3 linked regions of the Homo sapiens genome follow. The protein of the gene in region 1 purifies or fractionates together with the protein of each later gene. This does not show direct contact. Each region holds a gene or a part of one and is shown in the gene's direction. Other genes may lie near its edges.

Evidence for each region.
Region 2: the proteins of PPM1G (region 1) and ZNF561 purify together in Homo sapiens (co-immunoprecipitation; one large-scale study listed by IntAct). This does not show direct contact.
Region 3: the proteins of PPM1G (region 1) and HMG20A purify together in Homo sapiens (affinity purification with mass spectrometry, with the first as the bait; one large-scale study listed by BioGRID). This does not show direct contact.

What each region holds. Positions count from the first base shown.
Region 1 is NC_000002.12:27,383,104-27,385,704, reverse strand, and holds part of PPM1G (protein phosphatase 1G), read left to right. Parts: intron 1-616; coding exon 617-1,032; intron 1,033-1,612; coding exon 1,613-1,753; intron 1,754-2,104; coding exon 2,105-2,339; intron 2,340-2,601.
Region 2 is NC_000019.10:9,619,047-9,622,801, reverse strand, and holds the start of ZNF561 (zinc finger protein 561), read left to right. Parts: upstream 1-1,569; 5' UTR 1,570-1,640; exon of another isoform or gene 1,641-1,886; intron 1,887-3,219; 5' UTR 3,220-3,314; coding exon of another isoform or gene 3,315-3,345; coding exon 3,346-3,370; intron 3,371-3,755. UniProt on the Homo sapiens protein: May be involved in transcriptional regulation.
Region 3 is NC_000015.10:77,476,241-77,479,895, forward strand, and holds part of HMG20A (high mobility group protein 20A), read left to right. Parts: intron 1-1,314; coding exon 1,315-1,390; intron 1,391-2,054; coding exon 2,055-2,270; intron 2,271-2,938; coding exon 2,939-3,075; 3' UTR 3,076-3,081; exon of another isoform or gene 3,082-3,655. UniProt on the Homo sapiens protein: Plays a role in neuronal differentiation as chromatin-associated protein. Acts as inhibitor of HMG20B. Overcomes the repressive effects of the neuronal silencer REST and induces the activation of neuronal-specific genes.

The sequences.
Region 1 (2,601 bases):
AGAAATATTCTTTAATATTACTTATCAATTCTAAGATAGGATGGCTTTCTAGGGACCTGGGGAGTCCTTATGTTAAAGAAACCTATGATGTTCTCCTGCATTGTATGTGGTTATGAAAAGGAGGGAGAGAATTATCTTCGTTGAGTGGCATCTGAGCTGTAAGCATTGTATATACATTATCTTTTGTCATTGTGATGGGGTCTTCCTGGTTCCTGCTAGTATTTATGTGCTTTTTTTTCCCCTCAAGACTGGAGCAGTTATTAGCCCCAATAGCCAATCATTAAGCCTAAATCCTAATTCACAGTAGCATTGTGGGCTTCCTGGATCCTCAGCCAGAATAGGGTTTTTACAACTTAACAATAAAAAATGAGACGTCAGAGGGGAAGTATAGTAACTAGTGTTGTTTTGATTAAGAAGGGGATGAAACACAAAAACCAAAAGAAGTCTGTGGAGGAGGAGGAGCTAGGGCATGTTCTTCTGAGACTTGAGCGAGAGGAACCTTGGGAGTGGGAGGTTGTGGGGAAGTTAGAGGCTGCAAGGGCTGTTGAGGTAGTGAGAGGGACGGATCCCATGAGGAGTCTGGCATGGGGGCTCTGATTTAGCCTCTTCCCTGCAGTGGACAATGAGGAGGCTGCACTGCTGCATGAAGAGGCTACCATGACTATTGAAGAGCTGCTGACACGCTACGGGCAGAACTGTCACAAGGGCCCTCCCCACAGCAAATCTGGAGGTGGGACAGGCGAGGAACCAGGGTCCCAGGGCCTCAATGGGGAGGCAGGACCTGAGGACTCAACTAGGGAAACTCCTTCACAAGAAAATGGCCCCACAGCCAAGGCCTACACAGGCTTTTCCTCCAACTCGGAACGTGGGACTGAGGCAGGCCAAGTTGGTGAGCCTGGCATTCCCACTGGTGAGGCTGGGCCTTCCTGCTCTTCAGCCTCTGACAAGCTGCCTCGAGTTGCTAAGTCCAAGTTCTTTGAGGACAGTGAGGATGAGTCAGATGAGGCGGAGGAAGAAGAGGAAGACAGTGAGGTAAGGGCCTGTGAGGGCAGGCAGATGCTGAAGTTGCAGAGAGGTCCTGTTTGGTTGCCGTCTGTAGTTTTCAACTCTCTTTCCTTCTCCTATTTTGACATCATCCCCCAAGACCCACTGTATTCTAAGCTTTAGTCTTGAATTCATTGAGCTCCATCATCACAGGTACCATTTGCCTTTTTACCTCTTCCTTTGTTGGTACTATAACAAGCAGATCTAGTTCTGGCTTTTCAGAGTCTGTCTCCTAGAGAGAGAACAAGGAGATAGTTGTTACCTTGGCTAGTTGACTGTTTTCTTCTCTGGAAAATTTATTTTCTGGCCACAGTGCCTGAAAGATATTTTTGGCTGGCAGCCCTTGCCTTGTCCTGGGCTTTTTGCTAGTGACTGCTAAGCCCAGTTCAGGATGTCAGTTGTACTCATGCTAGCCCTTTCCATCCCCCCAATTTTCATGACCATATACTTGTATCTTTCAGTGTTTTGAGGACCTGTGTTCAGTCAGGACCTCTTGATTCTGAGTATGAGCTGTGGGGAGGGAGGGGATCATCCCAGTCTCAGCAGTCTGGGATCCTCCCCCTGGCAGGAATGCAGCGAGGAAGAGGATGGCTACAGCAGTGAGGAGGCAGAGAATGAGGAAGATGAGGATGACACCGAGGAGGCTGAAGAGGACGATGAAGAAGAAGAAGAAGAGATGATGGTGCCAGGGATGGAAGGCAAAGAGGAGGTGTGTGGGGAAGGGGAGCAATGAGTCTTGAAAAGCCACAAGGCAGGTGTGAATCCCCTAATTTTGATTTTGAGACAGGGGATCCCCCTGATACTTTAGGATGGAAGTAATAGTCATGGGGATTTATTCTGCAAGGGGAATGAGATGGTAAGCCTTTGGGGTTGAATTATCTAAAAACAAGGGAGAGGGAGTGTGCTGCTGTCTCTAGAAAGATGAAATGTGTGCTTCTCCTGTTTGTTAAAGCTCTTTTGGGGGTCCCAGTGAAAGCAAGCATAGGTGAACGATCAGGAGCACATCAGTGAGGAACGCATGTTCAGAAGCCCCCATGATGCTCCTTTTCTTCCTCTTAAGCCTGGCTCTGACAGTGGTACAACAGCGGTGGTGGCCCTGATACGAGGGAAGCAGTTGATTGTAGCCAACGCAGGAGACTCTCGCTGTGTGGTATCTGAGGCTGGCAAAGCTTTAGACATGTCCTATGATCACAAACCAGAGGATGAAGTAGAACTAGCACGCATCAAGAATGCTGGTGGCAAGGTCACCATGGATGGGCGAGTCAACGGGGGCCTCAACCTCTCCAGAGCCATTGGTAAGGGCCAAGAAACTGGGAAAGACTTCTAGGGTCTTTCTCTCTGTCCCAGACTACCTAGTAGCAAACTTTAATCTTCCTAGTGCTTGTGCCTTTCAAAGCACTTTAATATCTACTACCTCTGTTCTTATATTTCTGTGAAATAACTAAGATGGGTAGAGGTATCATTATACATAGGTATCATTATACCCATCTTATGTAACATTTGAATGATGAAAAAGACCTGTGAGTGCCGGGCGTGGTGGCTCACGCCTGTAATCCC
Region 2 (3,755 bases), on another chromosome or scaffold:
CCACAGTTTAGTCTACATATTTGCCCTGGCATGCTTGTACTGGTCCAGGCAAGCATTAGGGCATAGCCTGTTCTTTTTCCTTATTTGAAGATGTTTTGACCCTTCTCAGCATTCCACAAGTTACTTCCTCCTTCCTTTGTTCTCCTCTACCCTTGCCTCTTTTAAAAAGTTATAAGTTGCTAGCCAGAACGTGAGGTCCCATTCCAGCCAGTGGAAACTGGACACAGCAGTAGGTTGGAAGCATCAGGTTATAAATGACCCTATCTCCTTTGTTTGGTGTACTCTCGTGGCAAAACTGCTGGTGAGTATACCGTTTCTGCAGGAAGTAAAAATGGCCTTGCTGAGTAAATTAAATTTATGTTCAAGTGCTAATTTCTTTATGGCACCAGGGAACAAGCATTTTGAACATGTATATTTATATATTTTTTATATATTTATATATTTATATGTATTTATACATATATGTTTATATATATATATATAGAGAGAGAGAGAGAGAGAGAGACAGGGTCTTGCTACTTTGCCCAGGCTGGTCTCAAACTCTTGGACTTGTAGAAAATGAAATAAATACAGGTTCCTCTTCAAAGGGACTTTCCTCCCAGTCTGATTGAAATAAATAGTAATCCCTCTTAGAAGCCAAATTTTCTCAAAGACCTGTGGTAATATTGTTAAATTCTGCCAGCCGTAATAAAGAAATCAATAGACTCTGTTTTTAGCTCCCACATTTTAGCCTAGATATTTGCCCTGGCATGCCTGAACTGGTCCAAGCAACTATTAGGTCATGGCCTATTCCTTTCCCTATTTAGAAGTGTTTTTGCCTCTCTCAACAGTCCACAAGTTACTTCCTCTCTTCCTTTGTTCTCCTCTGCCATTGCCTCTTTTGGGAAGTTCTAAGTTGCTAGCCAATCCAGTGAAGTACAGGAAGGTGAGGTCCCGTTCCAGCCAATGGAAGCTGGACACAGCAGAAGGATGGACACTTCAAGTTTAAAAAAACCCTGTCTCCTTTGTTAATGTGTGCTCTGGTGGCAAGACTGCCAGCCAGTGGCACCCATTCTGCAGAAAGTAAAACTAGCCTTGCTGAGATCCTTTGTCTCAGTGTTGATTTTGTGACACCAAGCGAGCACCCATTCCCAGCAGACTCAAGCTATTTACCTACCTTAGCCTCCCAAAGTGCAGGAATTACAGGCGTGAGCCACTGCGCTCGCCCGATAAAAGCTTTGGAGGAGCATCCCCCGGGGATGCGTCCCATCCCTCATCCCCGCCCTTCCAGCCCGACCGGCCACCTGAACCACCGGCTAGGCCGGGTCCCTCCTCTAAATCACCCCCCGAGTACGAGCCCCTCCCCTCGCCCACAGTTCCGTCTGGAGGCCCGGTTCTAACCTCACCTTTTTCTCTGGACCTAGTTCTGCATCCCCCTCCCTGAGCCAACCCCAGGCCCTTTCTGCACCCACCCGAGAGGAAACTAGAATTTCTGTGTTCTACCCGGTCCTACGTGGCTGAAACTGGAGCCCACGAGCCTCGCCCGGCCAGAGTGTTGAAGCGGAAGTGACGTCAGCGCACCACCGCCATCTTTTCCGGCGCTGGCTCCTCTCCGTCAGTGCGGTTTCGCCTTTATGGTGGTGGAGTCTGCCCAGGCTGTGGTGAGTTCCACCTCCTTGGCGGTCCCGGGGATAGCAGGGGGCGGCAAAGGAATGATTGCGCGCTGTCGCCTAGGAGCCTCTCAGATCCGCTTCACTTCACTCGCTTCTCCAGGGACTATCAGTCCTCCCTGTGCGTCCAGTTCGGAGAGGCTGCGCGCTCTCTCGGCTCACTGCAACCTCTGCAACCTCTGCCTCCAGGGTCAAGCAGTTCTCCTGCCTCAGCCTTCCGAGTACCTGGGATTACAGGCAAGTGCCACCACGCCCGGCTACTTTTTCTATCTTTAGTAGAGATGGTTTTGCCATGTTGGCCAGGCTGGTCTTGAACTCCTGACCTTAGGTGATCTGTCTGCCTCGGTCCCCCAAAGTGCTGGGATTATAGGTGTGAGCCACTGCACCCGGCCGACTTTTGAAAATTTTAGATTTTGTTCTTAAGTCATCTTAGGTACGTAATGAAGTTATCAATAACACACGTGGCTGGTGACTACTGAATTGTTCTGTGCAGGTCTGCACTGTCTTCTGGTCATATGGCGGGGGGGTAACACCATATACAGGAGATCAGGCTCTAGGGACAAGTATCAGACCGACTACTAGGGTTGTTTGAGTGTAGGTTTTTTTCAGTATTAAATAGAAGTAATGGGCCAGGCATCGTGGCTTATGCTTATTATCCCAGCACTTTGGGAGGCCAAGTCAGGAGGATTGTTTGAGCCCAGGAGTTTGAGACTAGCCTAGGCAATCTGGTGAAAACTTGTCTCTACTAAAACTACAAAAAATTAGCCGGACCCAGTGGTGTGCACCTGTAGTCCCAGCTAGTTGGGGGGCTGAAGTGGGAGAATCACTTAAGGCCAGGAGTTCAAGACCAGCCTGGCCAATATGGCGAAACTGCGTCTCTACTAAAAATGCAAAAATTAGCCAGGCATGGTAGTGCATACCTGAAATCCCAGCTACTCGGGAGGCTGAGGCCTGATAATCGCTTGCACCTGGGAGGCAGAGGTTGCAATGAGTTGAGATCATGCCACTGCATTCCAGCCTGGGCAACAGAGTGAGACTCTGTCTCAAAATAATAATAATAATAATGAGTGATGATACGCACCTATGGTCCCAGCTATTCAGGAGGCTGAAGTGGGAGGATCACTTGAGCCCGGGAAGTCTAGGCTACAGAGAGTTGTGTTAGTGCCATTGGATTTCAACCTGGGCAACAGAGTGAGACCCTGTCTCGATAGATAGATAGATAGATAGATAGGATAGATATAGATAGATAGATATAGATAGATATATAGATAGATAGATATAGATAGATAAATATAGATAGATATAGATAGATAGAGGTAATGATAGCTACTGGGAAGGATGGCTATGATAATTAACTGAGCATGTATATATAAAGCTACTAGAGCTACTTCTGACATATCAGTCCTCAGTAAATGTCAGTTACTGTTATTAATACTTTTGTTACTGAGTGACGGTACTGAGTGGGCAATTTTTGGTGGCCTTCACATCTGTCACCTGCAGAGACAAAGCTCAGGCATAATGTTTGATGACTGATGTTTCATGCTTGTTGTTTGATGATTGATATGAACAGGACCGCAAATAACCCTGTACAAAGAGGAATGGAGATTGCCTCTATCCACCTAGATTCATAAGCTGGCCTGAGGTGATCTTGGCATCAAGGAAGGGATGCACATCATCACACCATCAGCTTCAGAGAATGGCAGCCATTTATTTGTCCCGTGGTAAGTCTTTGTTGATGCTCTTTTTCAGAGATTCTGCTTTAGGTCACCCTCCACAACACAAGCGTCCAGTGAGCTGAGCCTGAGCAGGCATGCAGCTGGTTCTTTTAGGAGGAATTGAAGTGAACCACAGAACAGAATGCTGTTTTATTATTTATTTATTTATTTATTTATTTTTGAGACAGAATCTTGTTCCGTCACCCAGGCTGGAGTGCAGTGGTGCAATCTTAGCTCACTGCAACCTTCACCTCCCAGGTTCAAGTGATTCTCTTGCCTCAGCCTCCCAAGTATCTGGGACCACAAGCACATACTGCCAGACCTGGCTAATTTTTGTTTGTTTGTTTGTTTTTGTTTTTGAGACAGAATCTCACTCTGTCTCCCAGGCTGG
Region 3 (3,655 bases), on another chromosome or scaffold:
GGAGGCCAAGGCAGGTGGATCACCTGAGGTCAGGAGTTCAAGACCAGCCTGGCCAACATGGCGAAACCCCGTCTCTACTAAAAAAATACAGAAAATTAGCCAGGCATGGTGGTGGGCACCTGTAATCCCAGTGACTTGGGAGGCTGAGGCAGGAGAATTGCTTGAACCTGGGAGACAGAGGTTGCAGTGAGCTGAGATCGTGCCACTGTACTCCACCCTGGGCAACAGAGAGGGACTCCCTCTCAGAAAAAAAAAAAAAAAAAAAAAAAAAAGCTAGTGGTGACAAGAGTAGGAAAGATACATTCTGTCTAGCTTTAAACAATTGTTTATAGGAATGAAATCTAGGTATTATGTTTGCATGTTTTTCATGTTATAAAGGTCCTGGGATCTTAAGATTTCACTAGCAGTTTCTTCATTTCTCACTTCCTGCCATTTTACCACCTTTGTTATGGAAAATTTTGAACATTATGCCAACACACTTAAAATTAATATTCACAATGCTTTCAACTTCAAATTCATTTTAGAAACGACAGCCAAAGCATCTTGAGTTATTGACTTTATTCTTAAAGATCATTGTGGAATATATTTTGCAATGATCTTGTGAGGCTTTTTTATTTTTAATGGCTTATTGGTGAATTAATTTTAGGCTTTGTTATTCTTTTGTATCTCACATAATCGTTTGCTTTCTAATTTTTAGAGCCTGGTTATTTCTGATTTCTCGGTCTCATGTGTTTGTTTGTTTATTTTTCCTGTGTCTAAAGAAAATCTAAAAGACCCCAAAGATAGGCTGCCTCTCTTAAGTAAATAGAAGTACCAATGGAATATCATAATTATTGCTCATAGCAGTTACATTTCTGCTTAAAATTCTTATTGTCCACTCTGCAAATTTATATTGCATAATCTTATCTCAGGGAGCATTTTACATGCATAACCAACAAAAGTGACTGAAAAAAAACTACTCTTTCTCAATTCCCACTGCAATCACTTTCACAACTGTATACTGTTGACTATTCAAAACACAAGGCTAAGAAATGGCTTCAAATTCTCCATTAGGGAAATTTACGTAACTTTGTTTTAAGGTTTCTAATTGCACAGTAGTTGTATACCTGAGAGAAGTGAATACTTTACCTGCTTAAGCTCTGTGAAAGTTGGATTCCAATGAAAAGATGAATACATTTCCCTCACAGACTCACCTGGACTGATTCCTGCTCACCCTATTCTTTCTTTAAAGAAGACATGATCATTGTCTTCAGGCACTATTATTTAATTTATCTTCTATTAAGAATTAACTGTTTTGTTCCTCTTGATTCACAGAAAGAAACAGAGGTAAAGGAACGGTCTGTTTTTGACATCCCTATATTTACAGAGGAATTCTTGAACCATAGCAAAGGTGATTACTGAAGTTTCTTTTTGTGTTTCTCAGATTTTTGACAGGGGACTTAGTTCTCAGAAGAAATTCATTGCTCAAAAGCAATGGTAGTGTTATCCCTCCTTAGGACTACTCAAAGACCAGTGAAGGAAAGCTAGGGCATTGTTGTCAAAGCTTCTTTGGTCTCTGGATGAAAGGAAATAAATGCAAATCACAAATTCACTTGTCTTCAAACTCTTAGCCTGGAACCCCTTGCACAAATAAAAACTTACATGGGAGTCCAAAATATAAAATAAGTAAGAGCAAGTCTGATCCCATTGTGGTAAAGATGGGTACCTACAGCTGTGCTTGGCCAGTCTCCCAGGATCCCCCTGCAAAACCCCTCAGGCTTCTGATTGTACAATTTAAAAAGCAAAAACTAACAAACAAAAAAATACTGGGAATTGAAACTGTTTGTTGCAATCTTATGTATGGAATGTGACTAGCTTTAAGAATTAAAATAGCTCTGGGGAGTCAGGCGTTTCATTGCTGAAATTGCTATCTGGAATGCCATAATGAGAATAGGGAGATGAGGTGGGGTAGCTAAATTAGAGGCAGCTAAGCAGAACTTCCCTGTAAGAGTCATTGGGACTCCTCAGAGACTCCTTCTAGTGCTGCATGTGTTCTGTGGGATGTATGTCCTCAGCTCGGGAAGCAGAGCTCCGCCAGCTTCGCAAATCCAACATGGAGTTTGAGGAGAGGAATGCAGCCCTGCAAAAGCACGTGGAGAGCATGCGCACAGCAGTGGAGAAGCTGGAGGTGGATGTGATCCAGGAGCGGAGCCGCAACACAGTCTTACAGCAGCACCTGGAGACCCTGCGGCAGGTGCTGACCAGCAGCTTTGCCAGCATGCCCTTGCCTGGTAAGTCCTCCTGCCTGAGAACTGTCAGTGACAGGGGTGTGTGTGTTGTGTGGAGTGGGGTGCTGTTTATGTTAGTACTGGTGTGGAGAGATTGAAATCTCCTCCAGAGGAAAATTAATTAAACTACATTTTTTCTTCTCTGGATATAATAGAATGTCAGTATTGGCTAAAATCGTCCAATGTTTCAGGCTCTCTGGTCATTCAAATTTTTGTCCATTTATATTTTAATATCTATTTTCCCCTCTTTTAAGCTTAATTTGCTATTCAGAACACTGGAAACTGAGTAGTAAATCTTGAGAGTGTTTCTTCTTATGTATGTTTGTTTGCTTTTTAGTTGTTTTTGTTTTAACGGGAAGGAAGGGAGAATGAACACTGGTATTTCTTATATACTCTTTCATTTTGAAGATAGTCATAGCAGAAAGCTGAGCGAGTCTAACCTTCTGTTACATGCAGCTGCTCATATATACTATACAGCAATTATATAGCCCATCTGTTTATTTAGAGTATGTGGACTAATTTCATTTCTTTGAGATCTAAAAGTCTCTCCTCTAAAATTAAAAGCATGTCTGTGGAGCAGACCACATTAGAATCACTGTTTCTTTGAAATTGTGTTTTATGGTACAACTGAATAGGGAGGATTTTCTTACTTTCTTCTTATCTCACTTCAGGAAGTGGAGAGACACCTACAGTGGACACCATTGACTCATATATGAACAGACTGCACAGTATTATTTTAGCTAATCCCCAAGACAATGAAAACTTCATAGCTACAGTTCGAGAAGTTGTGAACAGACTCGATCGTTAGGGAATGGTGAGTGCTCACTGATAAATATTTATATGCCAGCACATCATCAAAAATAAGATGTCATCAGACTTTATCAATACTACTAAAACCCTGGGATTACATTGGATGAACAAGTTGGAGACTTGGTTAAGATTCCTGTTGCATGGTTGTTAAATGTAGTAAATAATATTAGAAAAGAGAATCACTGTAGTCCCAGCTACTTGGGAGGCTGAGGTGGGAGGATTGCTTGAGCCCAGCAGTTCAAGTCCAGAGAGATCCTGTCTCTAAAAATAAAAGAAAACAGACTCAAGACAGTTTTTTCTTATGCTTGCTTCAGAATGGTTTAATGGGAAAAGCATGGTTTTTGTGGCTTGACCTCATTTCTAGCTTTGTCACTTATTAGCTGTATTCTTGGGCATTAGTTTCCCAAAAGGTTTTGAAAAGTGAGTGGGAAACTTAGAAGAAATCATCCCCAAAACAGCACTCAGAACAAAATAAATATAACTTAATTTTTAATCTTCCTTTTCTCTGGAAAATACTAATGATAATTTAGAAGTAGTCAGTGAGACATTGTATGTATGTGAGCCTACATAAGTAGGAA